6 linked regions of the Homo sapiens genome follow. The protein of the gene in region 5 purifies or fractionates together with the protein of the main gene of each other region. This does not show direct contact. Each region holds a gene or a part of one and is shown on either strand. Other genes may lie near its edges. The genes, in order: TTLL12, TLE3, TTC1, USP34, SRXN1 and SULT1A1.

The links.
Region 1: the proteins of SRXN1 (region 5) and TTLL12 fractionate together in Homo sapiens (co-fractionation; one large-scale study listed by BioGRID). This does not show direct contact.
Region 2: the proteins of SRXN1 (region 5) and TLE3 fractionate together in Homo sapiens (co-fractionation; one large-scale study listed by BioGRID). This does not show direct contact.
Region 3: the proteins of SRXN1 (region 5) and TTC1 fractionate together in Homo sapiens (co-fractionation; one large-scale study listed by BioGRID). This does not show direct contact.
Region 4: the proteins of SRXN1 (region 5) and USP34 fractionate together in Homo sapiens (co-fractionation; one large-scale study listed by BioGRID). This does not show direct contact.
Region 6: the proteins of SRXN1 (region 5) and SULT1A1 fractionate together in Homo sapiens (co-fractionation; one large-scale study listed by BioGRID). This does not show direct contact.

What each region holds. Positions count from the first base shown.
Region 1 is NC_000022.11:43,172,888-43,177,674, forward strand, and holds part of TTLL12 (tubulin--tyrosine ligase-like protein 12), read right to left. Parts: intron 3,510-4,787; coding exon 3,433-3,509; intron 1,729-3,432; coding exon 1,612-1,728; intron 1,517-1,611; coding exon 1,322-1,516; intron 940-1,321; coding exon 828-939; intron 1-827. UniProt on the Homo sapiens protein: Negatively regulates post-translational modifications of tubulin, including detyrosination of the C-terminus and polyglutamylation of glutamate residues. Also, indirectly promotes histone H4 trimethylation at 'Lys-20' (H4K20me3).
Region 2 is NC_000015.10:70,062,885-70,067,671, forward strand, and holds part of TLE3 (transducin-like enhancer protein 3), read right to left. Parts: intron 3,335-4,787; coding exon 3,130-3,334; intron 1,587-3,129; coding exon 1,570-1,586; intron 1-1,569. UniProt on the Homo sapiens protein: Transcriptional corepressor that binds to a number of transcription factors. Inhibits the transcriptional activation mediated by CTNNB1 and TCF family members in Wnt signaling.
Region 3 is NC_000005.10:160,011,555-160,016,341, reverse strand, and holds part of TTC1 (tetratricopeptide repeat protein 1), read right to left. Parts: intron 1,684-4,787; exon of another isoform or gene 1-1,683.
Region 4 is NC_000002.12:61,187,710-61,192,496, forward strand, and holds part of USP34 (ubiquitin carboxyl-terminal hydrolase 34), read right to left. Parts: intron 2,950-4,787; coding exon 2,809-2,949; intron 2,706-2,808; coding exon 2,562-2,705; intron 1,361-2,561; coding exon 1,201-1,360; exon of another isoform or gene 1,001-1,200; coding exon 393-1,000; 3' UTR 1-392. UniProt on the Homo sapiens protein: Ubiquitin hydrolase that can remove conjugated ubiquitin from AXIN1 and AXIN2, thereby acting as a regulator of Wnt signaling pathway.
Region 5 is NC_000020.11:645,720-651,092, forward strand, and holds the end of SRXN1 (sulfiredoxin-1), read right to left. Parts: intron 3,199-5,373; coding exon 2,995-3,198; 3' UTR 896-2,994; downstream 1-895. UniProt on the Homo sapiens protein: Contributes to oxidative stress resistance by reducing cysteine-sulfinic acid formed under exposure to oxidants in the peroxiredoxins PRDX1, PRDX2, PRDX3 and PRDX4. Does not act on PRDX5 or PRDX6.
Region 6 is NC_000016.10:28,606,369-28,611,955, forward strand, and holds the start of SULT1A1 (sulfotransferase 1A1), read right to left. Parts: upstream 3,677-5,587; 5' UTR 3,563-3,676; exon of another isoform or gene 2,492-3,562; 5' UTR 2,488-2,491; coding exon 2,340-2,487; intron 2,236-2,339; coding exon 2,110-2,235; intron 2,021-2,109; coding exon 1,923-2,020; intron 710-1,922; coding exon 583-709; intron 488-582; coding exon 393-487; intron 1-392. UniProt on the Homo sapiens protein: Sulfotransferase that utilizes 3'-phospho-5'-adenylyl sulfate (PAPS) as sulfonate donor to catalyze the sulfate conjugation of a wide variety of acceptor molecules bearing a hydroxyl or an amine group.

The sequences.
Region 1 (4,787 bases), on a different chromosome or scaffold from region 5:
GGGTTTCTCCATGTTGGCCAGGCTGGTTTCGAACTCTTGACCTCAGGTGATCCGCCCACCTTGGCCTCCCAAAGTGCTGGGATTACAGGTGTGAGCCACCGCACCCTGAAGCAAAGTCTTTATATCCATTTTTAATTGAAATGAAATATAAATTCTCACCCATAATTCCATCCACCCCCATCCCATGGCCTGAAGTCTCCACGACAATCGTCCTCATGATGCATTTCCCGCCAGCCTCTGACTATGTACACAGTCCAGGCAGATCCTGTGTCCTGCAATCCCAATACTGCTTCTGGATGTCCCCTCACTATGAATCTTTACCACGGCTCTGAGAGGCTCCTTGTCCAGGCTCAGCCACCTCACCCTGCTGGGCAGCCATACCTGGCACACTATGTGGTAGGAACTTTGCGATTAGACGCACCCAGGACAGTTCTTTTTTTAAAGACTGGGTCTTGCTCTGTCGCCCAGGGCGGAGTGCAGTGACGCGATCACAGCTCACTGCAGCCTCAACCTCCCGGGCTCAAGTGATCCTCCTGCCTTAGCCTCCTGAGAAGCTGGGACTACAGGTGTGTGCCAACATGCCCAGATAATTTTTAAAGTTTTTTCCCTTGTAGAAACGAGGTCTCCCTATGTTGCTCAGGTTGGTTCCAAACTTCTGGGCTCAAGTGATCCTCCTCCACTTCCCAGAGTGCTGAGATTACAGGTGTAAGCCACCCTGCCCAGCCTGGACCTGTCCATAAGGACCATGATGCTCGGTCCCCTTAGCCCCACCTCTCACTGTCCAGCCAGGGCCCTGAGCCCTGGGGCTCCTGGTCTGCGGGGCCCACCTTGGGGGTGCTCTCTCGGTGCCGGATGATGCTGTGCAGGCTCTTGGTGACGTGGGTGTCCAGGCTGCGCGCCAGGTTCCAGGGCTTGCAGATCCAGTGGTTGTCCTCGCCCCTGGGGAGCAGAAGGGCTGTCTGGGGGGCGCCTGGGGCCTGTGTTCCCAGATGGTGCCACCCCAGGACCCAGAGGCAGAAGAGGGCAGCCCACTTCTCCTTGGGAGCTGAGGGGGCACCAGAGAGCTGTCAGAGGCAGGGGCATGGGAAACAAGGAGGGGTTTGCCAGAGGCCAGGCAGCTGCGCTGCGGTGGAGAGGACAGCCCCAGCAAAAACCTGGAGAGGTCCTGCGGTCCGTGAAGACGGCCGTGACGTTCGGGGCCCACAGCTCGGCTCCTGCACCACGGTTTCCACAGTGGGTGCTCATGGAGGAGCAGGCGGACACAGACGCTGGGCCGGGGAAAAGGGCCATGGAGCACACCGATGCCGTGTCTGGGACTTACCACCTTTCCCGCTGCTGGAAGTAGCTGACAAACTGGGGCAGCTCAGTGCGCAGGTTGAAGGTTCGGGGCAGCCAGGGTGGGCCCTCGGGGCCACCTGCCCGGCGCGCGATGGAGGCCAGGCAGTCCTTGACAGTCAGCAGGTTCTCGCAGGGGAACTGGTTCAGCAGCACGCCTGGCCTCTCCTGGCTGAGTTTCCTGCAGGGCGGAGGCAGGTGCGCCAGCTCAAGGGGAGGCCGGCAGTGCCTAGAAGCCCTGACTGGGAGGGCCCCTGCGGCCAGAGGTGCCCTCACCTGTAGTCCTTGAAGTGTGAGAAGTTGAAGAGGATGTCGGCGTCCGCCTCACTCTGGGTGAGGGTGAAGCGCGGGTGGGTGAGGCTGCTGGCCACCTGCTGCACGTCCGTGTAGACCCTGTGGGGAGAGCCCGAGCTGGGTGATCCCGGCTCCCAAGTGTCCAAGCGGGACTCCAGCACTAGCCCTGGCTCAGGGACTCCCTTCCCTGTTTTGAAGCTAATGAGGCAGAGGCAAGTCCTGGGTTCGAGTCATGATGCTGGACAGCCCGGGTTCAGACCCCGCTCCCTCCAATCTGCTGAGGGAGGGGCGCAACCTGTACCCTTGTGACCCCTGGTTCCCCATCCGCAGGACTGGACCACACCGTCCACCTCACATTTGTCATTAAAATTAAATGGCATAATTTGGGTGTTTATTATGTGCTAGTTCTTTCCTCTCACATGCAAAACAAGAGGATGAGGCTGGGGCCACCAATCTCAGACAGGCACACCAAGGGCCTCCGTGAGGCCTCTGCCCCAGAGGAGGTGGAGGGACCTTAGGCCCTGGCCAGGTCACCACAAGACTCACGTCTCAGCAAGAGCCCCTGGGCTGCCCAGCTGGGGCAGAGGCCAGCAGGGAGGAAAGCCCTCAGGCCCGGTGGAGGGGGCAGAGTGGAGCAGCCTGCCTGTTCTTGGCTAGACCAGGTTTGGGCAGCCAAGGGGAGTGTCTGGGAGCCTCAGGGAGGGGCTCCTGTGAAGGCTGAGGTGGAATCTGCTCTGCATCTCTGGGTCCTCACCTGTGCCTGCTTCTGCAAGGTGTCCCGCCTGGACCTGCCGGCCTGGCTTTCCTTAACTCAACAGCCACACCTGCAGCCTCCTGGGAGGGGCCCCTACTGGCAGCCCGGGTGCCTGTTGTGGGTGCCCAGCATGTTCCTGGCCAGCAAAGGCTCCCTGCTGTGGGGAGGGCTGGCATGCACAGGCCTGGCTAGTGTCGGTTTCCAGGACTGGATGAGCATCGTATCCAGGTAAGCGGAGCAGCCCCATGACATGCAAGGTTGGTAACAGGACCCCTTGGTGCCCAGAGGACAGGGGTGGGATGGGGACCAGTGGTGGCCAACGCTTCTGCCCAGGGGGCCCTTTACCCACTCACTGCCAGCATTTCCATGGCCTATTCCTATTTTTAACTTTCAAAGATGAATTTATTTTATTTTTTTTTAAGGAGTCTTGCTCTGTAGCCCAGGCTGGAGTGCAGTGGCCCGATCTCAGTTCACTGCAGGCTCTGCCTCCCAGGTTTCAAGTGATTCTTCTTCCTCCTTGGCCTCCCGAGTAGCTGTGATTACAGGCGCCAGCCACCATGCCCTACTAATTTTTTTTTTTTTTTTTTTTGTATTTTTAGTAGAGACGGGCTTTCACCATGCTGGCCAGGCTGGTGTTGAACTCCCGATCTCAGGCGATCTGCCTGGTTTGGCCTCCCAAAGTGCTGGGATTACAGGCATGAACCACTATGCCTGGCCTCATAGGTGAGGTGTGAAACCTGGGAGGTGGAGGTTGCAGTGAGCTTAGATCGTGCCACTGCACTCCAGCCTGGGTGACAGAGACAGACTCTGTCTCAAAAAAAAAAAAATCTCCAGAAAGCCCTGCTCGCTCTCTCACTTTCTGCGGCATTTTCTCTGGGGTCCCAAGAACTCCACTCCCTGCACGTGTCACTGCTGTGCCCAGACAGGATGCGGCTGACTTGCTGCGTGCCACGTGCCAAGCACTGTTCTGGGGCTGTGGGAACCACGAAGCATGGGAGGCGGGGACTGCGGACAAGTCCCAGCCCAAGCAGTGGGGGGGGGCTACGCACTTGAAGATGTGGCCGTGGGGGTGCACCACGGGGTTGATGTCAAGTGGCAGCTTCTCCTTGTTTTCCTCCAGAATGGCCTAAAAGGAAACACACCGGAAGTAGAGATGAGGTCAAGGAAGGGAGGGAAAGGCCGGCCGTGGTGGCTCATGTCCATAATCCCAGCACTTTGAGAGGGTGAGGCAGGTGGATCACGTGATGTCAGGAGCTCGAGACCAGCCTGGCCAACATGGCAAAATCCCCACTCTACTAAGAATATAAAAATTAGCCAGGCATGGTGGCGCGTGCCTGTAATTCCAGCTACTCGGGAGGCTGAGGCAGGAGAATCGCTTGAACCCGGGAGGCGGAGGTTGTAGTGAGCCGAGATTGCGCCACTGCACTCCAGCCTGGGAGAGAGTGTGAGACTACATCTCAAAAAAAAAAAAAAAAAAAAAAAAGGAAAAGAAGGAGGGGACACAAGCCTCACCACCTGGCATCAGGTTCTATGGCCTCAAGGGGCGCATGGCTGCTCCTCCCTCCCAACACCCCAAAGCCTCTAACCACCCCCCTCACCCCAGGATTCTGGGGCTCCAGGCCCCTCGGATGCCGAACAGTCCTAGTTTGGTGTCAAAAGAACAAGGTAAACATTGTTGCACATCTTCTCGGTGCTACCTCAAAATCGCAGGGGGCGAGAAGGTGCCAAACCCCTCCTGAGAGGAGCCGCTTTGTCCTAGGAGCCACGAGGGCTGTCGGGAGCTTCTGCAGTGTGATGATTTAAAACATGCCCACGTGGCTGCACATGGTGGCTCAAGCCAGTAATCCCTGCACTTTGGGAAGCTGAGGTGGAGGAGTACCTGAGCCCAGGTGTGTAGGACCAGCCTGGGCAACATAGTGAGACCCCGTCTCTACAGAAAAGTTGAATAATTAGCGGGGCTTGGTAGCAGTTGCCTGGAATCCCAGCTACTCGGGAGGCTGAGGCAGGAGGATTGCCTGAGCCCAGGAATTGGAAATGGCAGTTAGCTAGGATCATGCCACTGTACTCTAGCCTGGACAAAAGCAAGACCCTATCTTTTTTAAAAAATTAAAAAAAAAAAAAGATTAAAACATGCCTACAAACTCTTTGACACTATCTTCCAAAGGCAGAGCCGCATCCATCTCTGAGGGTGGGATGGGCCTAATGAGTTGCTTCTAATGAGCAGGAAAAAGGTGGAAGGGACAGGGTTGCTTCTGCAACAAGGCCATGAAGCCTGAGGCTTCCTCTCTGCTCTCTCCCTCGGATCACTTGCTCTGGGAGAAATCAGGTGCCACATCCTGAGGACACCTGAGCACTCTTATGGAGAGGCCCACAAGGCAGGGAGCCCAGGCCTGCTGCCAACAGT
Region 2 (4,787 bases), on a different chromosome or scaffold from region 5:
GCATGGACCTCAGCGAGCATGGTAAACAGCCCAGCTCTTGGGGGTTCCCAGGGGGGGTCTTTTAGCAGAAAACTTTCACAGATGGGGCACAAAGCCAGAAGCCAATAGGGATGAGGATGAGGTAAAGACTCATGCTCTTTAGAGAGTGCTGGGCTTCCCACTCCCCCTCCAATTCCACTGAAGTGGGTCCCTGCTAGCCAGGTAATCTGGATCCTCAGTCAGGTTATAAAGGGTCTTCCGAAACAAAGCTGAGAGGTTGGTCAAGCAGGAATTATTCCCATGGTATGGATAAGGAAACTGAGGCTCAGAGAGGCCAAGAGAACTACACAGGGCCTCATAAAGCTGGGACCAGACCTCAGCCTTAAAATGTCCAATCCAGGCCTCCGCCTATCTAGGCAAACTGCCTCTCCGAAAAAATGCCACTGTTAGAGGATCAGTACCGAGGCAGTGAACATGGATTTTCAGCTTCAATGACTCCTCTCTTAGGTACCTAGCCATTCCTCAGCCCAAATGTGGTCCTGGATTTCTGAGCATGTAGGCGGGTCAAGAGGCCACGGACGCCAGCCTCACTGCTAATGGGAGGTTTAAAAAGTCAGCCTGGGTAGGGGGAGGGCCAGGAAGGGAAGGAGGGCTGGATTGGAGAGAGCTGCGCAAGGAAGCTGCTGTCTAGATGGTTAGTTAACTGCCTGACCTTCCAAGTCCTACTTAACACGAGGTAATAACCAAAGCCATCCTAACAGATTAGATGGCCCCAGATACAAGGACAGCGATGAGGAATAAAATAGCTTTGCTAATCGCTGGAGGATTTTTTTTATCCAGACTCCACTGCGCTTATTCAGAAGGCTTATTCACTTGAAACAGAACCTCGGAGCCTCAGTGTGATCAGAAAGATTTACAACAAATCTCAGAGCTGGCAGACACGCAGGCGGCCTGGCCTTAATGCTCGCCTGCTAGCACTTTCTTAAATCGAGTGAAAGCCCAGAGCAGGGAGAAACTGCAGGCGTTTGAAGGGAATGAGGAGGATGCAAGATCATACAGGAGGCATCCTAGCAGGGGGGTGGTAAAAACCTTGGCCCTGAACATGGGACACCTGGGTCCTTAGCCCTGGGTTTAGCCCAGAGACTCCACAAAGCCCCTCGCAATGGAAGATCCAGGGCTGGTCAGCTGACCTCTCAGAGTATCACCTCTCATATGAAACGGAGTTAGAGCTCATTTAGCCCAAGCTCTTCATTTGACAAATGGCAGACCTAAAGCCTGGAGAGAGGAAGGGCTTCCACAACTGAAGGTCACTCTCAACAGGTGACGACAGCAGCTCCCATTTTATGACAGTAGCTACCCCTCACCCTGCCACTGGCTCTGGACTAAGACATCAGCACTGAAGCTCCCAGCTCAGCAAGAGTAAACAAACAACAAAATCCCTAGTTACAACCCACAGAGCAGAAGCGGGAACCCAGAAGCCAGCTTTGGATACCGACTGACTGGTCTCAGGCCCGCGATTCTGGGAGCCCCGAGTCCCACCTCCTCCCAGCACCCAAACACCCCTCCGGGTTCCAGAGTGCCAACACTTACCGCACTGGATTCTCTCTCTTTGGGGAAAGAAGGCCAGGACAGGAGGAAGGTCAGGCACCCCAAAACAAAAAGACAAAAAAGAAAGGAAAAAGGTCAGTCTAAGTCCAGCTGGCTTTTGTGATTTGCTAGTGCACTGGTTTTAAAATGAGCAGAAGGCCTGGATTGCTGTCTCCGTGGATCAGCCAAGGCAGGGCCATTAGGTGGCGTTTCTCGGTTTGGAAATTTGCCACCCAAATTCCAATGCTGCCCCCACCCCTCTAGTCCCCAGGGTGGGCAAGGGAGGCCCAGTCCCCAGGGTGGGGAGGGTAGGCCTTTGACCCAGTTCTCCCTGTCATGCCAGAGGGCACCAAGTTTACTCTTTAGCAGGCTAGGGGTCTTAAGATCACAAGCTTGAGAAGGATCATGCCATATAAAATACCAGTAGGACCTGGGAGTTAAGAACTTTATTGTTAAAAAAAAAAAAAAAAAAAGGAATTTAACAGTGGTTTAATTTTGTTTTTGAAATTAACACCATTCTGTGATTCTTTGTCAGGATGCCCCTAAAAGCTGAAGCCTCTGAAACTGTGCCCAGCTAAGCACTAGCTCCCCAGTTCTCCTGTCTGCTATGGAGAGGCCCCTCTTCCTCTGCCAAAAGGACCATCCTACTGTAAGACAAAAAAATGTAGCCTCCAGTTCCCTGGACCGGCTACCACCCTGTGGCCTGGGCCAAGGCAGGATGGTGACATTCCAGGTCCCTAGTGCTCAGAAGGTGTTGGCTACGTGCCCCAGTAAATACCGTATCTAAGGGCAGAGTGCATTTGGCACCAATTTTTGAAAAGGGCCTCCCAGGGAGCCAGGCTTTTCTCTTTTCTGATCCAATGAACCACTCCTGAGGCCAAGCTCGGTGCAGCTTCATGGGTCCTCATGGTAGGGGCTGCAGAGAGGGTCAGAGAACAAGTTCTGACTCCAAGTCTATGTGATCTCTTGCTGGGGTGTGCACTACCCCCACTTACAGGCAGTCAGCTAACAAACCTTTACCTGAGCACTGACTGTGCACCTTTCCCAGGTTTCTGCATTGGTGAGACATAGATGTAAGGAAAACACCCAAGAACTTGGCACCTGTCCTAGGGAACTAATGATCGTGGTGAGCACAAGACATTTTCCAGGGGTAGGATGTAAGACGACAGTAACAAGGACTCAACTTTGGCATCCCAACTCTTAAACTCTTACAGGAACTTGAAAAAGCCCCTAGTCTGACCAGGAAGGCATCCTGAAGGGTTGGACTGGGGCTGGCCCCTGAAGGACAGGCAAGGGTGTTGTAGGAAGATGGGAGCGAGCTCCAGATGAACAGACAGGGTCTTCAGGACAGAGAATACCAGGTCCACACCAAGGAGTAGGAAAAGGTGCATGGGATGCGGATGGCATTGGCTTCCCTGCACCAGGTATCAACAGATGACTCCAAATCCTTGGTAACTCCTGGTCTTAGGACGACAGCACTTGCTGGGTCCACTCACTGTGAGGCCTATGAGCGCCCATGCCCACCCCTGCCCCGCCCCACCCTCTGCCCCAGCCCAGCCGCACCTCTGTGATCGAGTTCATGGTGGTTCTTCTCATCCTTCACCGTCAGATGGGCCTGGCTGCCCAGGGCGCCCAGTGCCAGCAGCCCGGAGCTGCTCCCTGTCACTGGGGGGATTCCTGGAGGCTGGAGACCTGACGGGTGGGGTGGCAACTGGACCGGGGGGCCGTGTGTGGCATGGGAGAGGTGCTGCGCCTGGAGCTGCTGCTGCTGCAATGAAGTCGGTGGTGAGTACAGCTGAGTTGGGGAGGGCAGGGGAGGCGTGGCCACCTCAGGAGGGAGGGAGGGAGTGGCTCTTCCCATTCCTCTTGCTCCTTCACTGGGTGGGTGGCAGGGGGAAGCACCCCCAAAACCTTTGCCCCCAGCTCAGTTCACATGAATGTCTCGCTGAAGGAAGTCTGTTAATAGACTGTAATGTAAAGATTTATGTCTTCAAGCACCCCCCAACTCCCTGCACCCCCGTTTCACAAATAATTTCTCAATGTTTGTTTCCAAGCCTGAGATAAAGAATGCATGCATTTAAAAAACCGCAGAGTCATGGGGTTCCCTCTGAGTAGAGAGGGATCCATTTTTAAGCTCACAGCCCTGGCAGTGTTTGCTCATGCATACATGCCTTCAGCATTAGCTGCCAGCATCTTCCACCCTGAGGCTGGACCCTGGGGAAGGCTCCTTATTTCTTAGGAACTCCAAGCCTGCCTTACAGAGCAGGGGCAGGGCAGGTCATCACAGCAAAGGCCCCAGAGCCAGATGAGCTGGGGGCCAGTGGAATGAGAGCTAACGTCACCGGACATCAGTGGTGGAAAACGGGGTAACTGGAAGAGTGGAGGCTTTGGAACTAGACAGAACAGGATTGAAATCCCAGCTCTGGCACTTCCTAGCTGTGTGGCCTGGGGCAGGTTACTTCAAGTCCTGGAGCCTCAAATTTCCTTATCTGTAAAGGGGGAAAGCAGCAGACCCCAGAGGATTATTGTAAGATAATGTTTGCAGCAGCTCATGGCGCACAGCTACTAAGCCTCATGGCAGTAGCTAACATTTACAAAGAGTTTAAAATGGATTGCTGAACCCTTCTAAAAACTTGCCATGCAGCAAGTCAGTATTATCAACAACAATGCAATTCTCCCTGTCTCCTCCCCAGTCAAGGACTCCGCTGCCCTGGCTCCAGAGGCCCAACTTCCCCACTCAACACTAGCCTCAGGGGCTTGGGCTTCTCTTTCCTCTCCCTTCGCCCCACCCAACTTCTTCTCCACTACTGAAAGAGAAGTTAGGTATGCTGGTATCCACCTATGCACACATCTTTCTTCTCAACTAGTGCAAGAGAAGAAAACTAACATTTACTGAATGCCTGAATGAATGCCTGGGCACCTTCCAACCACCTGGCAAGGGAGGGGTTGTGGCCATTTAATAGATGCTTAGGGGGCTGGAGTAGGTAGCTAGTAATTGGCCAAATCCCACCACTAGTAAATCTGTCAACCACCACCCCTCATCCAAAGAATGCTCATTCCTAAGAAGATCCCCAAAGCAAGAGGGGTTGGTGGAAAGTGCCATAGAGAATAGATCTGAGAAGCTTCCAGATCTCACACCTTACTAAGGGAGCTCGCCTGTCAATATGAGATGGTTTTCTGGCAACCGCGAACAGATAACAGAACACAGTGAAGGCCCATGG
Region 3 (4,787 bases), on a different chromosome or scaffold from region 5:
CAGTGGCGTGATCTCGGCTCTCTGCAACCTCCGCCTCCTAGGTTCAAGCAATTCTCGTGCCTCAGCCTTCTAAGTAGCTGGGACTATAGGTGTGCACCGCCATACCTGGCTAATTTTTGTATTTTTAGTAGAGATGGGGTTTCACCATGTTGGCCAGGCTGGTCTTGAATTCCTGGTCTTGAGTGGTCTGCCCACCTTGGCCTCCCAAAGTGCTGGGATTATAGGCATGAGCCACTGCACCCGGCCAAGATTTACCTTTAACAACTGCATTGTATACTACATAAATATAACAACAAAATTTAAGTAATACTCTGGGAAGAACACATTTTTCTCTCCTACTATACCCTCCCAATAGGTCTGACACCAGATGAGAGTGTTTTCCACACTAAACAATTCTCCAATGGACACCAACGGAGTGTCCTATAATTCAATTCAGTTCTGTCACTATCTCCAGGTAGACAGTGTCTGATCCCACAGGTTAAGAGTTTAGTCTCATAAGCCTGGCCCCACTTCAGACACTAATCACAAGTCCCAGGTTGTGACCTATGATTCCGACTGAATGGTTAGCACAGGGTTCTTACCACCCTCTCTGTGGGTTCAATAATTTGCTAGAATGGCTCACAGAACTCTGGGAAACACTTTACTTACACTTAGTAGTTTATTACAAAGGACATTATGAATGATATAGAACAGCCAGGTGAAGAGACACACAGGGAAAGGTAGAGGGAGAAGGGGTGCAGAGCTGCCACGCCCTCTCTGGGTGCTACCCTCTTAACACTTCCATGTGCTCATCAACCTGGAAGCTCATCAGATTTCTAGTTCAAGAGTTTTTATAGGCCAGGCGCAGCAGCTCACACCTGTAATCCTAGCACTGTGGGAAGCTGAGATGGGAATATTGCTTGAGTCCAGGAGTTCGAGACCAGCCTGGGCAACATAGTAAGACTTCATTTCAAACACAAAAAAATTTAGCAAGGTGTGGTGGAAGGCGCCTGTGGTCCCAGCCACTTGGGACATTGATGTAGGAGGATTGCTTGAGCCCAGGAGGTTGAAGCCTCCAGTGAACTATGATCGCACCTCTGCACTCCAGCCTGGGCAACAGAGCGAGACTTGGCTCAAAACACAAGAAGAAAAAAGCTTTAATGGAGCTTAATCTCCAGCACTTGCCCTCCTCCTTTCCTGGATTTTGGTAGGTGGTGCCAAAAGTTCCAACCCTCTAAAACTCTAATCACTTAGTCTTTTTGGTGACTGGCCCCATCCTTCCTTAGGCTATAGATAGGCCAGATCCTAAAAGTTATCTCATTAGGATGAACTCAGGTGTTATCAAAAGGGGTACATTAAGAATAACAAAAAAATACACTACACTATCAGAAAATTCCAAGGGTTCTAGTGGCTCTGTAACAGGAACCAGGGACAAAGACCAAATAAATTTACTATACTACAAATACCCTGTTTAACATTGTCTAGCTTTCCAAAATTATGAATGATGCTGCAACACATCTATGTATATACATTTGTGTATATTTCTAATAATTTCCTTGAAATAAATGGCTACAAGAGAATCAGCGTTAATGCTGTCATGTCCAATATGGTACTTACTAGCCACATGTGACGATTTTAAAATTATTTATTTATTCATTTTGAGACAAGGTCTCACTCTGTTGCACAGGCTGGGGTGCAGTGGCGTGATCATGGCTCACTGCAGCCTTGACTTCCCAGGCTCCAGGGATCCTCCCACCTCAGCCTCCTGAGTGGTGGGGCTACAGGCTTGTGCCACACGTGATTATTTTTATTTTTAAAGGCTTTTTAAAAAATTTTAATTAAAAAAAAATTTTTTTTTTTTTGGAAAGACAGGGTCTCACTATGTTGCCCAGGCTGGTCTCAAACTCCTGGGCTCAAGTGATCCTCCAGCCTCAGCCTCCCAAGTGCTGGGATTATAGGAATGAGCCACTATGCCTGGCCCATGTGACTATTTATTTATTTTCTGAGACGGAGTTTTGCTCTTGTCTCCCAGGCTGGAGTGCAATGGCCCAATCTCGGCTCACTGCAACCTCGACCTCCTGGGTTCAAGCAATTCTCCTGCCTCATCCTCCTGAGTAGTTGCGATTACAGGAGCCCGCCACCAGGCCTGGCTAATTTTTTAATTTTTGGTAGAGATGGGGTTTCACTATGTTGGCCAGGCTGGTCTCGGGTCGAACTCCTGACCTTAGGTGATCTGCCTGCCTCAGCCTCCCAGAGTGCTGGGATTATAGGTGTGAGCCATCCCGTATGACTATTTAAATTAATTACAATAAAATTCAGTTCCTCAGCCGTAATAGCCACATTTCAAGTGCTCAATAGCCTGATGTAGTCAGCAGCTACCATACTGCATGGTGCAGGATGTAGAACATTCCTATCCTTGTAGAAGAGTCTATTGATAGCCCTATCTAAAGAAATGGTCACATAAAAATTTGGTATCTGCATCCCATGAAGTGACATAACAATTTAAATTCTCAATATTAGTATATGAGTTCCAACATCCTCTCCTTGTCAACATCAGATCAATATTCTGATCTGATAGATGAGACATAATGTTTTAGTTAGTATTTTTTTTTTTTTTTTTGAGACAGAGTCTTGCTCTGTCACCCAGGCTGGAGTGCAGAGGCCTGATCTCAGCTCACTATAACCTCCATCTCCCAGGTTCAAGCGATTCTCCTGCCGCAGCCTCCCAAGTAGCTGGGATTACAGGCGCACACCACCACGTCCAGTTAATTTTTGTATTTTTAGTAGAGATGGGGTTCCATCATGTTGGTCAGGCTGGTCTCGAATTCCTGACCTCATGATCCGCCCGCCTCAGCCTCCCAAAGTGCTAGGATTACAGGCATGAGCCACCACGCCCAGCCTGTACTTTTCATCATTATTAATGAGGCTGAGTCTTTTCACATTTTTTGGCCATTTTTTTTTTTTAGTCATTGTTGAACTATCTGAACTTTATTTTAAAAGATTCAAATATAACACTATCCTGTTTCTGATGAGCTATTAAAGCCAAACCATATATGTAGAAGACATTTCTTCAATCTGTTTCGCTGGCTTCTTGAAAATTTTGGAAAGATATTTATCAAAATAGCATACAAACACCTAATAAGAGTAGTACCACAGTTAGCTGAAGGCAATCTGCACTCTTATAGGTTGTTTCCTTAAAGTAGAGTCAGTGGCTTACATTTCTCTAAATAATAAGACTAGCACTGCAGTATGTTACTGTTATGAGATATTCTTACAAATTTTCAAATTAGCTATGAAAACACTTAGACTGATATATAAATGAATAGAAAATATTTATGTTTTAAACATGAATACTACTGTATGATTATGTTTATATGAATGTCTGGAACAGGAAAAAACCACCTATGGGACAGGAATCAGAAGAGTGGTTAACCAGAGACTGGCAGGGTTGGGAAAGGAATGACTGATAAAGCACACAAATGGAGTTTCTGACATGATGGAAATGTTCTCTATCTTGATAGAAACGTGAACTATGCAGGTGTATACAATTGTCAAACTCACTGCATTCTACACATGAGAACTGATATACAGTTTCACTAAATTATATCTCAATTTTTAAAAGGAGGAAAAAAGTGAAAAAAAGTATTGTTCTACTTAGAATATTAAACTTACAGGCAATAAAAATAATTATCCTCACTGGGTGTGGTGGTTCACGCCTGTAATCCCAGCACTTTGGGAGGCCAAAGTGGGAGGACTGCTTGAGCCCAGGAGTTGGAGACCAGCCTTGGCAACATGGTGAGACACTGTCTCTACCAAAAAACCCACAAAAATTAGCCAGGCAGGGTGGTGCAAGCCTGTTGTCCCAGGTGCTCAGGAGGCTGAGGTGGGAGGATCCACTTGAGCCCAGGAGGTTGAAACTGCAGTGAGCCGTGATCACATCACTGCACTCCAGCCTGGATGACACAGTGAGATCCTGTCTTAAAAAAAAAAAAAATCATAAAAGTATTTATAGAACTTAAAGTATGATTTTCTGGCCTAGGAGACACAAAAAAAGTTTTACTAAATTAGAGGTAGGGATCAGACTTTGTGACACCTTGAGCCAAACCATTCAACTGTCAAATCCAGAGGGCACTAGAAAATTAATATAATTTCAGGGCAAAATATATTAAGGTATCAGAAAAGCACTACTAACTTTTTAACATAGATGCATAATCAGTGTTTCTAAAAAGCCTGAAACCTGTTATAATGTTATGGAACAGTAGTTAATTTTTTTGAGCTGTATTTGCTGTGGTAGTTTATGAACTTGGCTCACTTTTGCCCTTTTTCCTCCTGTTCTGGTGGTGCACACTAGCACAAAAACGAACACGTTCACATTAAAGCTAACTGATTTGATAATGAAAAGCGTCTAAGGAGAGAGAAAGAGAAGATGCTCCTACCCACCCCAGGCTACCTTCCCACCCCCACTGTTAGGCTTAGGCTGAACATTTATTATCTCATCTCAATACCAATGTATCACAACCTGTTCAGTGAGTGAGCTCCTTAGTGGCATAAACTACAATCTAGTTCAAGTTCTTTGTAGACAAACTCAAGACATTACAGTAACTCTTCAGAGACTACCTTGCTTGTGCAATCAGAAGGAAGTAGGACAGCAGGACTTCAGTCTCCAAAAGTGAAGGCTTGCCCAGTTAAGGGTGTGGCCCCAGGGCAAAGAAACAGGAGAGTGTACATTTTATTAGTCTATCTGCTTTGTAGGAAGACAGATGTTTTTGTTATTACATTATACATTATACTCTAGCTTTGGAATCCAA
Region 4 (4,787 bases), on a different chromosome or scaffold from region 5:
ATCGGAGGCAATCTGCCTCTATAAGGTACAAAACTGGCACAGAGGACACCATATCATACACAGTAAAAATGCTGTAAGTTTAAATTACATTGTACAGGGCTAGGCAACCCTGTTCTTCCCAGACAGCCATATTAAATGAAAGCCACTAAAGTGAACTCTTAATTACATAAAACATATCCATTATCTGATTGCCCTTTAGGAAGTATACTGAAGATGCAAGTTTTTTTCATCTGGAGTTCTGCCTGACCAAGAATTAAGCCTATAAATCTATCTTGCCATTCAAGCAGAGAGCACTGGACAAACTGAAGCACAAAAACAAATAAGCAAAACTTATACAAACAGCATGGGGGTTGGGGGTGAGGGACTTAAAAGTAGACATGCTACACCTAATGTCAAGAAGCAGCTTGGTTTCCTTTGCCAGATATCCTTGTGACGACATGGATTGTAGATTCAATGGTCCTACACAGGGTATCTAAAATGTCATGTTGCTGCATATGACTAAAGAGTCCTCTGGAATGGCCACAACTGAGAGATAAAGCAACCTCAGGGTCCTGGGAGGGCAAAGCTTGGCCATCACAGCTTCTCAAGTCAGCTAAGTCAGACAGAACTGCAGAGATAGAAGTAGAAGGGAACTCAGATTCTTCCTCAGCTAGGGTAGAATCCTTGGAACAGTGGAGGTCTTTAAATTCTTTACAATCGTCATATCTACCATTGTTGGACTGTTCTTCTGCATGCTGTGACCTGATATTTGACATGTCTTCTGAAAACGAAGATGGAACTTCCATTCGGTATTCTTTAACAGAACTATTTTCAGGGGAAGGAAGATCTTGCTCAGTTCCTGGATCAATAATTGAGGAGTCTCTGGTCTCATTGTCAGAAGTGCTCGTTGGGGTCAGGACCTCCCTGGTTTCTGTTTTCATGTCACTGATGCAGCTGTCTACAGTGTGCTCCTCATCACTGCTAACACGCCGCCTTTTAATGGGAGTTGCTCCTTCATCATCTGTGAAAACACATGCCAAAAGGGAAACTTCTCTGAAAGTCATTAAGATCACGTTAGGGGGGGATGTGGGAAGTTAATTTTGTTTCTAGCATTTATATTTAGGAGGTTCAGCTGAACACACAACTCTTAAACCAGTTACACCAAGTGTATTACTCCCTCCTCCCACCCTAAAGGTAATGATAGTAGTCCATAAAGCTAACCTTTAGTTTTTCTTTCTTTGGCTTCTTGCTCTTGGAGTGAGTTTCTCTGTTGCAGACAAGTCCTGCATTTGCTTAAAAGCTCTTGCAGAGTTGGAATTAGAGCTGGGTTTAACTGTTTGGGAGTGTGTACTGACAGGAGCAAAGCGAGTGCCCTCAGGTCCTACAAAAACCCAGATAGGAACATTTCAAATTCTAAAGCCAACACTTTGATGCAGTTGTTTACAGTTAATTGCAGATGTTTATTTTCCCAGGAATCCATTCTTTCCTAAGAATACCCTGGTTTCTCTGGGATTCTTAGAATGATAAAACCAGAAAGCCAGTGTTAAGATACTACAGCATTTCATTAGTTGTTTTTTTTTTTTGTTTTGTTTTTGTTTTTTTTGAGATGGAGTCTTGTTCTTTGGCAAGGCTGGAGTGCAGTGGTGTAATCTCGGCTCGCTGCAACCTCCACCACCCGGGTTCAAGCGATTCCCCTCCCTCAGCCTCCCAAGTAGCTGGGACTACAGGCGCCCGCCACCACGCCTGGCTTAATTTTTTCTATTTTAGTAGAGACAGGGTTTCACCATGTTGGCCATTGAGATGGTCTCAATCTCCTGACCTCGTTATCCACCGGCCTCGACCTCCCAAAATGCTTGGATTGCAGGCATGAGCCACCGTGCCCAGCCTCATTAGTTCTTAAAGTCACTAATAGCATTATTTTATGCCCACGAACCAGTAAGTCAGACCAAAGCCTGAAATAGTGTTTTCTGAAAAATGGAAAAGGAAATATAAGAATTTTAAAAACAAACCTTGAAATCAGTTTCTCAAGTTAAAATTCTGATGGATGTCACAAATAGTAAGGTCTTCCTTACTGAGCTCTGTCATCTGTTTTGGCTTTTATGCATACTGTGATTTGGGAGGCTGCTGCTCAACATTCTAGCCCATTTCCAGAGTGTTCCATTATTCTAGGACATGGCTGTCATGGGAGTCTGCACAAGGCAACTAATGCTCTAGATTTAACTGCCTTTTTTAAATCAGTAGATCATTAATTGTTTCAGTTACATAGGAGCCATAGGCAGTAATAGAAACATCACAAGTATTGTTTCCAAAAATATACCCAACTAGAGATAAGACCACTAAGATGTTCCCTTTATTACCTTTCAGCATTTAATGATACCAGCTTGTAGCTTCCAAGGTGATAGAGTGTGCTGTGTACATACAAGGCATAGTAAACGTGTATTTAAAACTTGTTTTTTTGTCGCACATGGCTTAAGAGTTTGAATCAGTAAGTTAAAGTTACGAGAGTAAAATCATATGAAGGCCACACAGTTAACTGAAGGACAGTTTAAAAGTGTGTGCCGCCGCCTCTGCATAGTTCTTACCCCATTTAAAGAAGCACTTGCTTTGGAAATTTCAACTCGGTTGGAGAAATCAGACTGTAGGTTCTGATACTGGCTTATCAAGTTTGTAATAAGAGTGCTGATCAAATTGGCACAGTTTGCTTCAGAAAACACTTGACTTTGAACCTGAAAAAGAAGATTTAAAAAAATCTCCAAAAGACCAGCATAATGAAACCACAAGCATTAACTAATTAGAAATGACACACTGAGTTTCCAAAGTACTACGTACCTTTAGAAGGAAATGTGTCATGAACGTGTAGACAATGTTGTTGTTTAAAAAAGTTCTTTCATCCATTAGGATACATTTAATATATTCTGCGAAAACAGGATCTTCACACAAAAGCTTGATGCAGTTTTTTGACATAGCAGACTAAAGTGGGGAGAAGATGGTTGAGCACTTACGGTTGAGCACGGAAAAAACTTACACGGAAAAAACTTACACAGAAAAAACATACACTTGTGTATGATGGAATCTGAAGCCACTGAAAATCCTACTTGAAAAGCCATGTCTAACTCACCTATTGAATTTTTAGTTAACAGCAACTATTTTTCATACAGTAAAATGTTACTAATTTAGATTAAGGGAGTGCTGGGGGAAGACACTGATGCCGAAACTGAACAAATGTTTTAAAAGAAATGCAGGTTTATTATCCAGCACTGAGAGAGTTAACAAGGACTGGAAAAATAAGGCTAACAAAGAATAGGATGTGAATGTTTTCAAGGGCCAAATTAATGTATTTATAGGTAACCAGAGCATATGTTGCAAAAAGACACATTTTAAGAATCAAAATCAATTCTCCAAAATGTTTTAAACTTTACTGTATATTCTCGCTAGCAACAGTAATTCTGTAAATACCTTTTCCCCCCATAAACACTGCAAGGGTAAACAATAAATCTTCTTTCCTAATTATCTCACACAGAATCAGTGGTCTCAATATATGGAAATTTTACTAAAATTTGGTTTTCCTGTTTTCAAATAGTCATGGCTCTTAAACACAAGTAGTATGTCTTTAAGCAGATACACTCCATAGATTTAAATGTGCATTTTAATAATTTATATGGAAAAAAGCAATATATTTTTTAAATAGGACAAAATTTAGATTATATATATATATATATGCATATGTGTATATCTTATTAAAGTATGCAGCTGTCATAAGTAAATTACTCAAGGTCAGTCAAGAAATTAGGATTCAAGTAGGACCAAGACCCAGGTCTTGAGATCCTTAACACTAGGAAAAACCTGCCTTGGTCTACCAGTCACAGCCTGTGCCTCTGCCTCTGTTTCTTGCTCAGGATGGCTGCTTCTATAGCACTGGAAGCTTTGGAGGCCTTATATGGTTAGGCTTTGTTTTAAGGGAAATTTGGGGGCACAGTGAGTTCTGTCTGTGAAAGAAGTCAAGCGAAGGGAGTCCTGCGATGCAGAAGTAGAGAAAGCAATAGGGAGCAATAGGTAGTGGGAGAGTACAGAAACCAAGAAACTACCCAAATCAGGAAGAATGAAAAAGAACAGCAGTAGCAGTGGAGAGGGAAAACGAGATCTCCAATTGACTGAACAGAACACTCAGCTCAAAAATCAACTGATAAAAGTCATTTTCTGAATGCCTACTGTATGCTAAGTCAAGTGAGCTAAGATCAGTGTATACTAGCCTCTGAAAGATTTCTACTGTAGAGAACAACGTGGCATTTCTTCAGGGGATGGAGATGACTCTGATAAGGTCTCTACACTTGAGTTCTGTTTTGGAAAAGTAGAGAAACCACCAGTAGAGTACAGGATGGCAAACATCTAGGAGAATCCAGAGCACACTACAGCCTGGTAGGAGGCTGAACCAGACTCAAAATACTTCAGGAAAGCATGATGTGGGTCAAGGGTTGCACCTAAGGAAGGTGAATAAATTCATCTCTTCCAATGGGGTAGAGCAGATGCAACCAGGCAGTACAATCAACAGTTTTTTCAGGGACTGAAAGGTAGTGGGGATCCTTTATGCCTGATCCAAGGAATGAGCCAAACATTAGTACCTCCTCCTCTTCCCAATTCTGCCTTTGTAACTTAACAAGCATTATTTATGCAGCCACTTAATTTTAAGGAGTTGGCTCTTAGACACTTAAGGTAGGAACAGTAATCTTTCCTGTTTTCAAGGAGATCGCTGTAAGAAAACAAGTGCATCAGACCCCTGAAAAACTACAGATTATGAAAAGCTAAAGGAC
Region 5 (5,373 bases):
GTTACACCCTTTAAAACCCAGCTCCTCTTCCTTAAATGATCAAGCAGTACCCCTCTACTCCGAATCTGTTCTGCACCTCCTTCGCAGTGCCTGGCAGGGCCCTTAGCGCTGTCTGGTTGGGTCTTCTCTGCAAGAAGGAAAAGTTGTTTCAGGAGGGGGCGACCATCTTCACTCTCATTCCAGCCCAGCGGGCACAGGAGGAGTTTACTCACAGAAGACAGGGGCACCTCACCTTCGCTACAAACCTTAGGGGTACACAATCCATTTGACAGCCTGGAAGAAGTCCCCAGGGAAGGGACAGAACCGCCCAAGGTCACACAGTTAATGAGTAGACAAGCTGGGGGGAATGAGTAGACTCATTCCACTGGGGATGGAAGTGGGGAAGTCACCGTATTTGAAAATAACTGACGCAGTTATTAGCAGCTCTTAGCATGTGGTCCCTGAACAGCAGCATCAGCAACATCTGGGAACTTGTTAGAAAAGCAAATTATCAGGCCCTGCCCCAACTCGCCTCAATCAGAAACTCTGGGGGGCCGGGGGCAGTGGCCATGTCTGTAATCCCAGCACTTTGGGAAGCTGAGGCGGGAGAATCGCTTGTGCCCAGGAGTTTAGGACCAGCCCAGAGAACACAGCAAAACCCTGTCTCTACAAAAAAATGAGAAGGGCGCACCTGTAGTCCCAGCTACTCAGGAGGTTGACGTGGGAGGATCACTTAAGCCCCGGGAGGTCAAGGCTGCAGTGAGTCATGATCGTGCCACTGCACTCCAGCCTGGGTGACAGGGCATGACCCTGTCTCAAAAAAAAAAGAAAGTGGGGGTGGGGCCCAGCAATCTGGTATTTAGCAAACAAGCTTGAGACCCTGAACCATTGGTCTAAAGGAATTGCACACCCCCCCTTTTTTTTTTTAAATTAAATAAACTTTTATTTTGGAATGATACTAGATTTACAGAGAAGTTGCAGAGATAGTACAAAGAGTTCCTGTATACCCTTCACCCAGCCTACCCCAAGGTCAACATCTTACATCACCATGGTACATCTGTCAAAACCAAGAGACTGAAATTGGTATATTAACTAAAATTCAGACTTTTTTCAGATTTCCAATTTTCCCACTAATGTCCTGTTTTTGTTCCAAGACCCAATCCAGGATGCCACATTGCACTGAAGACACTCTCCCTTTTCAATTCTATTACTGGTCACCTCAGTCAACTTTCCCGGGGAAAGAGAATGCATGGGAAAAGCTCTTGTCCTTATTATTGAACTGGAGAAACTGAGGCTTAAAAGTGCCGAGTGACCAAGTTCCCTTAGAGGGCAGTGAGAACAAGGCCTGCCTTACTCTGTTCCCTTTCCCCAGGGACTCTTGGTTTTCAGAAGCCCCTCTGGAATGTCCTACCTGGCCTAACCCCATACCAGCAGTGCAGACAAGGAGGCACTCCTACTACAGTGGGTCCAGCCCATGGAGAGACTCACTTCCTGCCCCAACACCTCTTCCCCTAGACCCTGAGGGCCAGGACAATGTCTTAGTGCCTTCCAACTTGGCAGAGTGAGGCCCCATGAGACAGAGAGAAAGGGGGAAGAGGGAAATACCTTTATCCAAATAAATACCCATCCAAAATTATTTGTGATAGGTGAAAAATGGCCACAAGCTCTTTGTGGTTCCCCTCATCAAGACATGTAGTCTGTTTCTCATCCCTTGAATCTGGGTAAAGCCTTGTGATTTGCTCTGACCAAAAGAACTTAGCAGAAGTGACACTGTCCTAGTCCCAGTTCCAGGCCAAGAACTCAAGAAGTCTTTCAGCTTCTACTCTCACTCTCTTTGGAATCCTGAAGCCATCATGTGAATAAGCCTGAGCTAGCCTGCTGGAGAGGCCACATGGAGGAGAACCAAGCAATTCCAGCCAACAGCCTGTCACCTGCCAGGCAAGTGAGTAAGGCTATCCTAGACCATCCAGGCCCAGCTGAGGTAACAGCTGACCTTAGCTCCATGAGGGATCCCAGGTGTGAGCAGCAGAACTGCCCTGTTGAGCCCAGCCCAAATTGCCAACCCATAGGATTGTGGGAAAATACAGGGTTTGTTTCTAGCTGCCAAGTTTGGGGATGGTTTGTTACACAGCAAAAGCTAACTGGTACACAATTCTGCATTTCTCTCTTGGTAATGGGATCCCAGTTTTATTGCAGGAGGCAGTGTGCCAGTCTCAGTAGATGGAACACGATTGGTCTATTCAGCCATGACAATTCTGTTCCCTGCTGTCTTAGCTTTGTTTGCAGCTAGAGGTGCAATGGTAGCTGGCTCGGGCCAAGGGCATCTAAGTGAAGATATGCAGAGGGAGAGAGCAGGAAACAGACTTCTGACGAGGTTTTACTTTCTGATAGAAGGTGACGGGTCCAGCTAGTTTGGCCCTTCCTCTTCCTCCACCCCTCCTTCCTTGAACGCAGACATGATTCTTGGGGATACAGCAGCCATCTTGGGACCATGAAGTAACGAGCACTGAGATTAAGGCAAAAGGATCCAAGACGTGACCCCTACCTTCGTGGAGTTGTTGAACCAATACCATTAGCCACCCATCTCCAGAATCCATGCTATGTGGAAAAACAATCTTCTGTTTGTTTAAACCACTGCAATCAAGGTTTTCCTTTCCTTGCAGCTGAATGTAGTCCATATAAGAGGTTACATAGACAAAAATGCAGAGGGATCCTTGTCCTTGGGAATTTGGAGCCGGCAGCACGTGGCTCTTCAAGCCCATCTCTGTTCTCCTTCTCGGTAATGCTTCAAGGGTAAGGCCATGATCCTATTGTCACAGAGGTGGGAACTGGGGCTCCCACACTGTACAGTGAGTCCAAGGCCTTGTAGCTGGTGAGAGGGGTGCCCAGAGTCAGACCCTCTCGCCAGGTGCAAAGAGAATGCACCCCTGCTATCCCTTCTGCATGGCCCAGCCTGCTGGAGGCCAGGTGTGTCTTCTGGGCTCTTGAAGGTGGCAGCAGGTGCCAAGGAGGCTGCTACTGCAAGTCTGGTGTGGATGCTCCCAGGTACACCCTTAGGTCTGAGAGAGTGGACTGGACAAGCTTGGCGGGGATGGTCTCTCGCTGCAGTTGCTGGTAGGCCGCGTAGCGGTGGCAGCCCCCAAAGGAGTAGAAGTAGTCACCTCCCTGGGCCCCTTTGATCCAGAGGACATCGATGGGGGGCACGCTGTCTGGGTCCTCCTGGGGAGAAGAGGCACAGAGTCAATGGACATGGTACAAGGCTTGAGAGTTTGTAAAGCAGACTTTGTCCACTTGTGCTGAGCTCCTTATAAGGTGATCACACTGGACTACTGTGAGAGACAACTGTTAATTATCAGGAATTTTGTGAGCTGTTCGACATCACCTTGTAGCTTGAAAATCAGCCATGGGAGAGTATTTACACCAGAGAAATGGACAGATGCTACAAATCAGGGATTTCTCCCACACATGTATCAGCACACCACATGCACACTATCCAGCTGGCCCTGTTGTAGACCCTGGGAATACGGTACAGCTGGAATGTGACTGAATCAGGCCCTGGCTTCAAGGGGCTCCAGTCTAGTGGGGCAGATGGAACAAGAAGTAAATATTAGAGTGACAAATGCTATAATGACAATAACACAGGTGACAGGACAGAGATGGGGTCCACGAGGCCTCTCTGAGGTAAGAATGAAGCAGAGTACTTGGAAAGATAGAGAAGTGGGGCCGGGCACGGTGGCTCATGCCTGTAATCCCAGAACTTTGGGAGGCCGAGGCGGGTGGATCACCTGAGGTCAGGAGTTTGAGACCAGCCTGGCCAAAATGGCACAACCCTGTCTCTACTAAAAATACAAAAATTAGCTGGGCATGGTGGTGTATGCCTGTAATCACAGTTACTCAGGAGGCTGAGGCAGGAGAATCACTTGAACCCAGGAGGCGGAGGTTGCAGTGAGCTGAGATCGCACCATTGCACTCCAGCCTCGGCGATGGAACGAGAATCCATCTCAAAAAAAAAAAAAAAAGAGAGAAGTGGAATAGTTTCGATTAAGAGCTCAACTGCCTGGGTTCAAATCTAGCTCTGCTGCTTAACAGCTATGTGATCTTGGGCAATTCATCTTTTTGTGCCTCAGTTGCCCCATCTATCAAATTGGATGGAGATAACAGATCCATCTCATAGAATTTTTGGGTTAAATGGGTTAATATATATAAAGCACTTCAAACCATGCTTGGCACACGGAAAGTGCTCAGTAATGTATGCTGTGTATGACCTGAGGGAAGAACGTTCCATGCAAAGGGAACAGCAAACGCAAAGGACTTGAAACCAGAGCACGTTCACTGTGTAGGAGGCACAGCAAGGAGTTCACTAGAGTGGACTCCAGGGCTCCAGGAATGGTCAGAAAGGCCAGCAGGAGCCAGATGGTGCAGGTCTGCTTCTGAGAGCAGTGGGTGGGCCCTGGAGTGTTGGCAACAGGGGAGGGTGACATGATCTGATGCATGTTCTAGAAAGTTGTCACAGGAGAACAGACTTGGCAGGGTGGACAGGGCACAGGGCTGGAAGGCAGAGGGGAGGCCTCTGCAGGTATTCAGCAGAAGATGCTGGTCTGGATGATGGTGTGGTGGGGACAGGGAGAGGTAGACAGGTTTGGGACACATTTACGGGGCAGGCCCAAGGGGTCTGGCAGAAGGGGTGAATCCAAGGGCAAGAGAAAAGGGAGAATCTAAGTTGACTTCCTGTTAGGGGCCCACACAGCCAGGTGGAGAGTAGGTCATCCTCTAAACAGGGAAAGTCTGGGGCAGGACGGGTGCAGGGTAGAGCACTCTGGGGAGACCCCATTAAGTGTGAGCGGCGTGGAAGGCCTCCTGCTGCTGGTCCACGGGTTCTCTCTCATGATTCCACAAATGATTATTCAGCAGTAAGGTGCAGCAGTCACAAGCCTGAGCTCTGGAACCTGGCACACCTGACTTTGGATCTCAGCTCCTCTCCACAGCAGCTGGGGCACACAGCCCTCTGAACACCATTCCTCACCTGTAAACTGGGAATAAAACATCCTAGAGGGCTGCTGATGAAGAGTCAGTGAGCTGATGCCTACCGGGCATTAGTGGAGCACTAAGGAGGGCAGCCGTGCCAGGCAGGCCTTGTGCCGGGTACTGGAGGCACGATGGTGGATGGCCAGAATGATGGCTCCCAAAGATGTCCACGCCCGAATGCTTCTGAATGTGTTACCTTACATGGGAGAAGGGACTTGGCAGACAGAATTAAGGTAAGGATCCTGAGATGCGGAAATTATCCAAGGTTATCTAGATGGGTCGAATGCCATTATCAGGGTCCTTAAAACTGGAAGAGGAAGTAGAGGAAGAGGTCAGAGTGATGCGATGTGAGAAGGCCTTGGCCTGATG
Region 6 (5,587 bases), on a different chromosome or scaffold from region 5:
CCCAGGGCCCCAGTCCCGGGGGTAAAAAGAATTGCTGTCTGCCCTGTGATCCCATCATGAGCTGGGCTTGGCTCCTATGGGTGAGGACCGTGATGGTCTTCTTCTGTGACTGTGGCCCTGGGTAGCACACCCTTTGGCAGGGAGTAGCAATAGGACTAAGTTTCTGATCCGTGGCCCCCCATGCAGCTGACTCAGGTGCGAGAGATGAGAGCTGTGTGGGGCCCGCTGCCAGGTGGGGCCTTAGTGGGGAGGCCTGGGCCAAGAAGGCAGGATGGGGAATCTGGTCCTGCTGTGGGGGCTGCCCAGGGAGGGGGCTGGGTGGCCTTGGCGGGTCCCTGTGAGGTGCCTGCCCCCAGGAGTCACATGGAGGGAAGCATCGCACGTGGTCTCACCTCCTTCATGTCTTCATAGAAGAGGTAGAGAACAGGGTGGGTGCGGCTCAGCTCCCACCACTCCTGCACGTGCTGGTACCAGGATCCGTAGGACACTGGAGAAGCAGGCAAGGGGTGCCAACACAGGGTTGCTGTGCGTTGTAGCCACCACCCCTTAGCTCCACACTTTCCTTCCTCCCATCAAACCCACCTTCTCCGACCATGAACTTCTCCAGGAAGCTGTCCCAGGTCCCAGGCTCAGGGTGCACCTTGGCCATGTGGTAGAAGTGGTAGTAGGAAACTGCCACATCCTTTGCGTTGCGGGCAACATAGACCACCTGCAGGGGCAGAAGACTCAACCCCAGCACCATCACCACACAGCCTGTCCCAGGCCAGCTCATCTCTTGGATTGGCAAAGGAGGAACCTGAGGCTTAGAGGCTGACTTGTTTGAGATCTCACGGCACCGGTAGGGCCAAGTCAGGAGCTGAACCCTGCTCAGAAGCCAAAGTCCTGCCTGGTCCCTGAGACCATCATATTCTATAGTAATATAATCTGCATCAATGCGTCACACCCCAATCTGGAGCAAGGCATGCTCCACCAGCCGTGATCCCACCGCCACCAAATTTTGTGGGCCTGTGAGGACCCACCCTCTAGCTTTCTTAGGTCTACACTGAAGAGTCTTACGTTCTTGGTCATCAGAGCAAGAGGCAGACAGTCCCCGCCGCAGAAGATGAGACAAGGCTGGAGGAAGTGAGGCGACTTTCCCAGAAGAACAGGACCAAAGCTGGGCTGAGCCAGGGCCTCCTTCCCTGGATTCACATGCCCCACACCTGGACCTTTGCTTTTTCTTTTTATTGTGGGATTTATTTTATTTTATTTTATTTTATTTATTTATTTTTGAGACAGAGAGTCTCAAAAAAAAAAAAAAAAAAAAAAGGACCGTGGTCTTTCTTTTTTTCTGTCGCCCAAGTTGGAGTGCACTGGAGTGATAATAACTCACTGCAACCTTGACCTTCCAGGCTCAAGCAATCCTCCAACCTCAGACTTTCCAGTAGCTGGAACTACAGCGCTATGCCACCATGCCCTGCTGATATTTTGCATTTTTATAGAGATGGAGACTCCCCATGTTTCCCGGGCTGGTCTGTAACTCCTGAGCTCAAGTGATCCACCCAATTTGGCCTCCCAAAGTGCTGGCATTACAGCAGTGAGCCACCACAGGTGCCACAGTTTTATTTTTATTTATATATTTATTTATTTATTTATTTTTGTGAGTTTTGCTCTTGTTGCTCAGGCTGGAATGCAATGGTGGGATCTCTGGCTCACCACAACCTCCTTCTCCCGGGTTCAAGTGATTCTCCTGTCTCAGGCTTCGGAGTAGCTGGGATTACAGGCACCCGCCACCACACCCGGCTAATTTTGTATTTTTAGTAGAGACAAGGTTCTTCTATGTTGCTCAGGGTGCTCTCAAACTCCCAACCTCAGGTGATCTGCCTGCCTCAGCCTCCCAAAGTGCTGGGATTATGGATGTGAAACACTGTGCCCTGCCTCACCTTGACCTTCTGATCCAACAGAGTCTGGGGGAGCAGAGCCAGGGGCAGGTGTGTCTTCAGGAGTCGTGGGGCCGGTGTGTCTTTCAGAGTCTCCATCCCTGAGCAGTGGGTCAGGGAAGGTCTGGTGAGCTGAAGCCCCAGCCCTGTCTTCCTCCACTCCCCTTGCACCCAGGACACACTCACACACCTGAGGGAATCCCTGGGGCTTTGAACTCAAGGAAGGGCACCCGCATGAAGATGGGAGCTCGGTGACACTTCTCCAGGTCACCACCCTGGTAGATCATGTCCAGAATCTGGCTTACCCAGGTAGTGCCTGGAGAGGGAGGGAGATGGGAGGTGAGCAGGCTGAGGGCACGACCTCGCTGGCCAAGGTGGGGACTGCCACCTGGGAGAGGGTGGGTGGCCCTCCTCACTTACCGGACTTGGGGTAGGTGCTGATGAGCAGGTCATCAGGCCGGGCCTGGAAGCTCTGCAGGGGCCCCAGTGCCTCTGCAAAGTACTTGATGAGCGGGACCCCCTTCACGTACTCCAGTGGCGGGCGGGAGGTGTCCTGGATCAGCTCCATGTTCCTGCGTCAGGGGCCAGAGCCAGGCCCGTTCCCTTACCACCATCACAACAGCAAGAAAGTGGAATTCTTGCTTTCAGGGAAGTCACTGAGGCCTAGGGAGGCTGAGTGACTTGCCCGCACTCACAAAGCCACTCAGTGGCGGGGCTGGGGCTGAAAACCAGGTCGGGCTCTAATGCGGTGGTTCCCCAGCCTGGCCTCACCTTTCATTCACCTGCGGAGCTGTTCAAAATCCCAGGGCCTGGGCCATGGTGCAGACCAGTGAAAGCACCCTCGTCGGGCAAGGCCCAGATGTCAGGGTGTGTGAAGGTCTCCAGGAGAGTCCAGCTGCACTGAGGAAGCTCTAGGACCTTCCTGTGCTGTCTCCCTGCCAGCCAGCGCCCTTTGTCTCACCACTTCCTGCTGGGACCCCCAGCCTCCACCCAGTGGAGATGCTCCCCTCCTTGAGCCCCTCAGCCCCTCACATGTGGAAACCGCCCAGGCCAGCCAGGCCTGTGATCCACTTGCCTGGCCACAGTCCATCTGGGCTCCAGGACAAACACGGCCCATTGAGGAACTGAGCTGCTACTAGGGGCCAGAGCTGCTGTGGGAATGAACAAAACTCTGATGACTCAGCAAAAGCACAGGCCTAGGCAGGGTGGCTCCCACCTATAATCCCAGACCCTAGGGAGGCTGAGGCCAGGAGTTGGAGACCAACCTGGTGCAGCATTGCAAGACCCCATCTCTAAAAATCTTTAAAAAAATTCTTAAACATTAACCAGGCAGGATGATGAGGGCCTGTAGTCCTAGCTACTCCAGAGGCTGAGGCAAGAGAATCACTTGAGCCCAGGAATTCAAGGCTGCAGTGGCCAGGATCCCACAGCACTCCAGCCTGGGTGACAGCAAGACCTGGCCTCCCCGGGGAAAAAAACAAACAAACAAGGGAAGGGAGGGGGATTCACGCAGGCCAGGGTTGTCTGAAATGGGATATCCATGGGGAAAGGGCAGGGATGCCAGAGGCCTCAGCTTCTGGAATGTTAGAGCCACAAGCTGAGCAGGGTGAGGGCGCCCTGGGCCGTTCCACTGTGTCACTCACCTGAGCTCTTGGGAACCTGGCCTCGTGCCCTCCTCGCCCGCAGTGGCTGATTGTGGGTGTTGTGTGGGGAATGCAGGGTTGTTCTCTGAGCTGAGGGTTTCCTAGGTCCACTGTGGGAGGGATCTGGAGCCGGGGCTGGACTTAGATTTGCTTCCGGAAGGAAGGGGTGGGGTTGGGGGTGGGGGAGCTTCTCCATTACCCTCCTTAGTGTGCCAGCTGGAGACAAGCTTAAAGTGATCTCCAAAGCCACGACTGAGTTTGCTGTGTAGAAAACAGAAGAATGAAAGGGGAAAGGCCCAATGGTGGGTTTGTTTTTGTAGGTTTTTTTTTTCTGTTTTTTTTTTTTTTTTTTTTTTTTTTCCGAGCTGTCACTGGGCTCCTGACCTGCCCCTGAACTCCACCCTGCCAGGCAGCCAACAGACAAGCTCTCTCTAATTGACCCAGGCAAGAGAGGGGAGGGATTGGAGGAGAAAGCTGGGATAGGCAGGCCCTGGAAAGGTCACCTACCTGCTGGCTCCAGGCCAGTCTTGAAGGTGCCAGGGGTTCTGGCCCAGTGCAGCCCACAGGCCCCCAGCAGCCCATGCACTCCAGGCTCTGACCACAAGGCCAGTCTAGAGGGATGTGTGTGGGCAGAGTGAAGGGGCAGGGGTGGAGCAGAGCATGGATGCATAGAACAAGAAAGAACAAGGACACTGCAGTCCCATTGCCCTGGGAGTCAGCCCCAGCTTCATGGCTCCTGGGGACCTCAGAGAACATTGATAGAAGATCCTAGAAGAACCACAACCCGTGGCAGGTGGTTTTATTTCCCTGGGTTTGAAGGAGGCTCCACAGACAAGAGACCAGAGGAGGCCGAGGTTTGGAAGCCACAGGGCCCCGTGGAAGGGGGGCATCCCCCCATCCTCCTCGTTCTTTATCCTCACTTTAAAGTCCAAGGTCAAGCTGTGCACGAGACAGGTAAACAACCATCTGAGTAAAGGTGAATCTCCCAAGACTTCCAAGAAATGCGTGAGTTCAGAGGCAAGCGGACAGGTGGGAGTGTGGGGGAAGCTGAGGCATGGGAATTCCAGGCAGAGGAGAGGCTTCTCATATGCTAGGGCCATGGACCCCTCCTCCCTCCTCTGTGCCCATGAGGAATCCCCGTGACTGGCAGGTCCTCAGGCTACTAGCTCCACCCCTGCCCTCAGCAACCCTCAGGAGGTTCCCTTGACTAAGACTTTGTATTGCACTCTAGTAACAACCTGTCGGACCCACACGGGGTGACACAGAAAAGAGGCGAGAATGTGAGATTAATAGAGTGGTAGCAAGTGAATACAAAATCCCAGGCAGCAGTTTCACATGAGGAGAAGAAGGAAACTTGAAATAGCTGCATGCGCTAAGGGCCAATAAGTCCCTGAAAAATAGGATGAGGACCAAGCTGGCTACGACCAACCAGACACAACATGGCGCTGTATTTGATGTAGGTTTCACCTAGGATCTCATTGTATGATCAGTAACATATGAAACCGTACACCCACCAGTGCCAAGACGGCTCCAGGAACACCTGTATTTGGGTGTAAATTGTGGCACCACGGTCTTGAGAAATCTTTACCTTTTCCTGGACTCTTCATGAATATACCCCTCTTTAGTTGAAGAAGCCCATAAAGGTCAGCCCCACACCTTGTAGGGCATGAGACACTCTCTTGAGGACCCCCACGTTCCTCTTCTTCAGTGAGTCCCTTTACTCTGCAGGAAATCTGCCTACATTCATGACTTTTGCACTTGTCCTTAAATTGTTTCTGGCTAAGGTGCCAAGAGCCTGGAGAAGGCCTGGCACGGTGGCTCACTCCTGTAATCCCAGCACTTTGGGAGGCCGAGGCAGGCAGACCACCTGAAGTCGGGAGTTTGAGACCAGCCTGACCAACATGGAGAAACCTTGTCTCTACTAAAAATAGAAAATTAGTCAAGCCTGGTGGCACACGCCTGTAATCCCAGCTACTTGGGAGGCTGAGGCAGGAGAATCGCTTGAACCCGGGAGGCGGAGGTTGC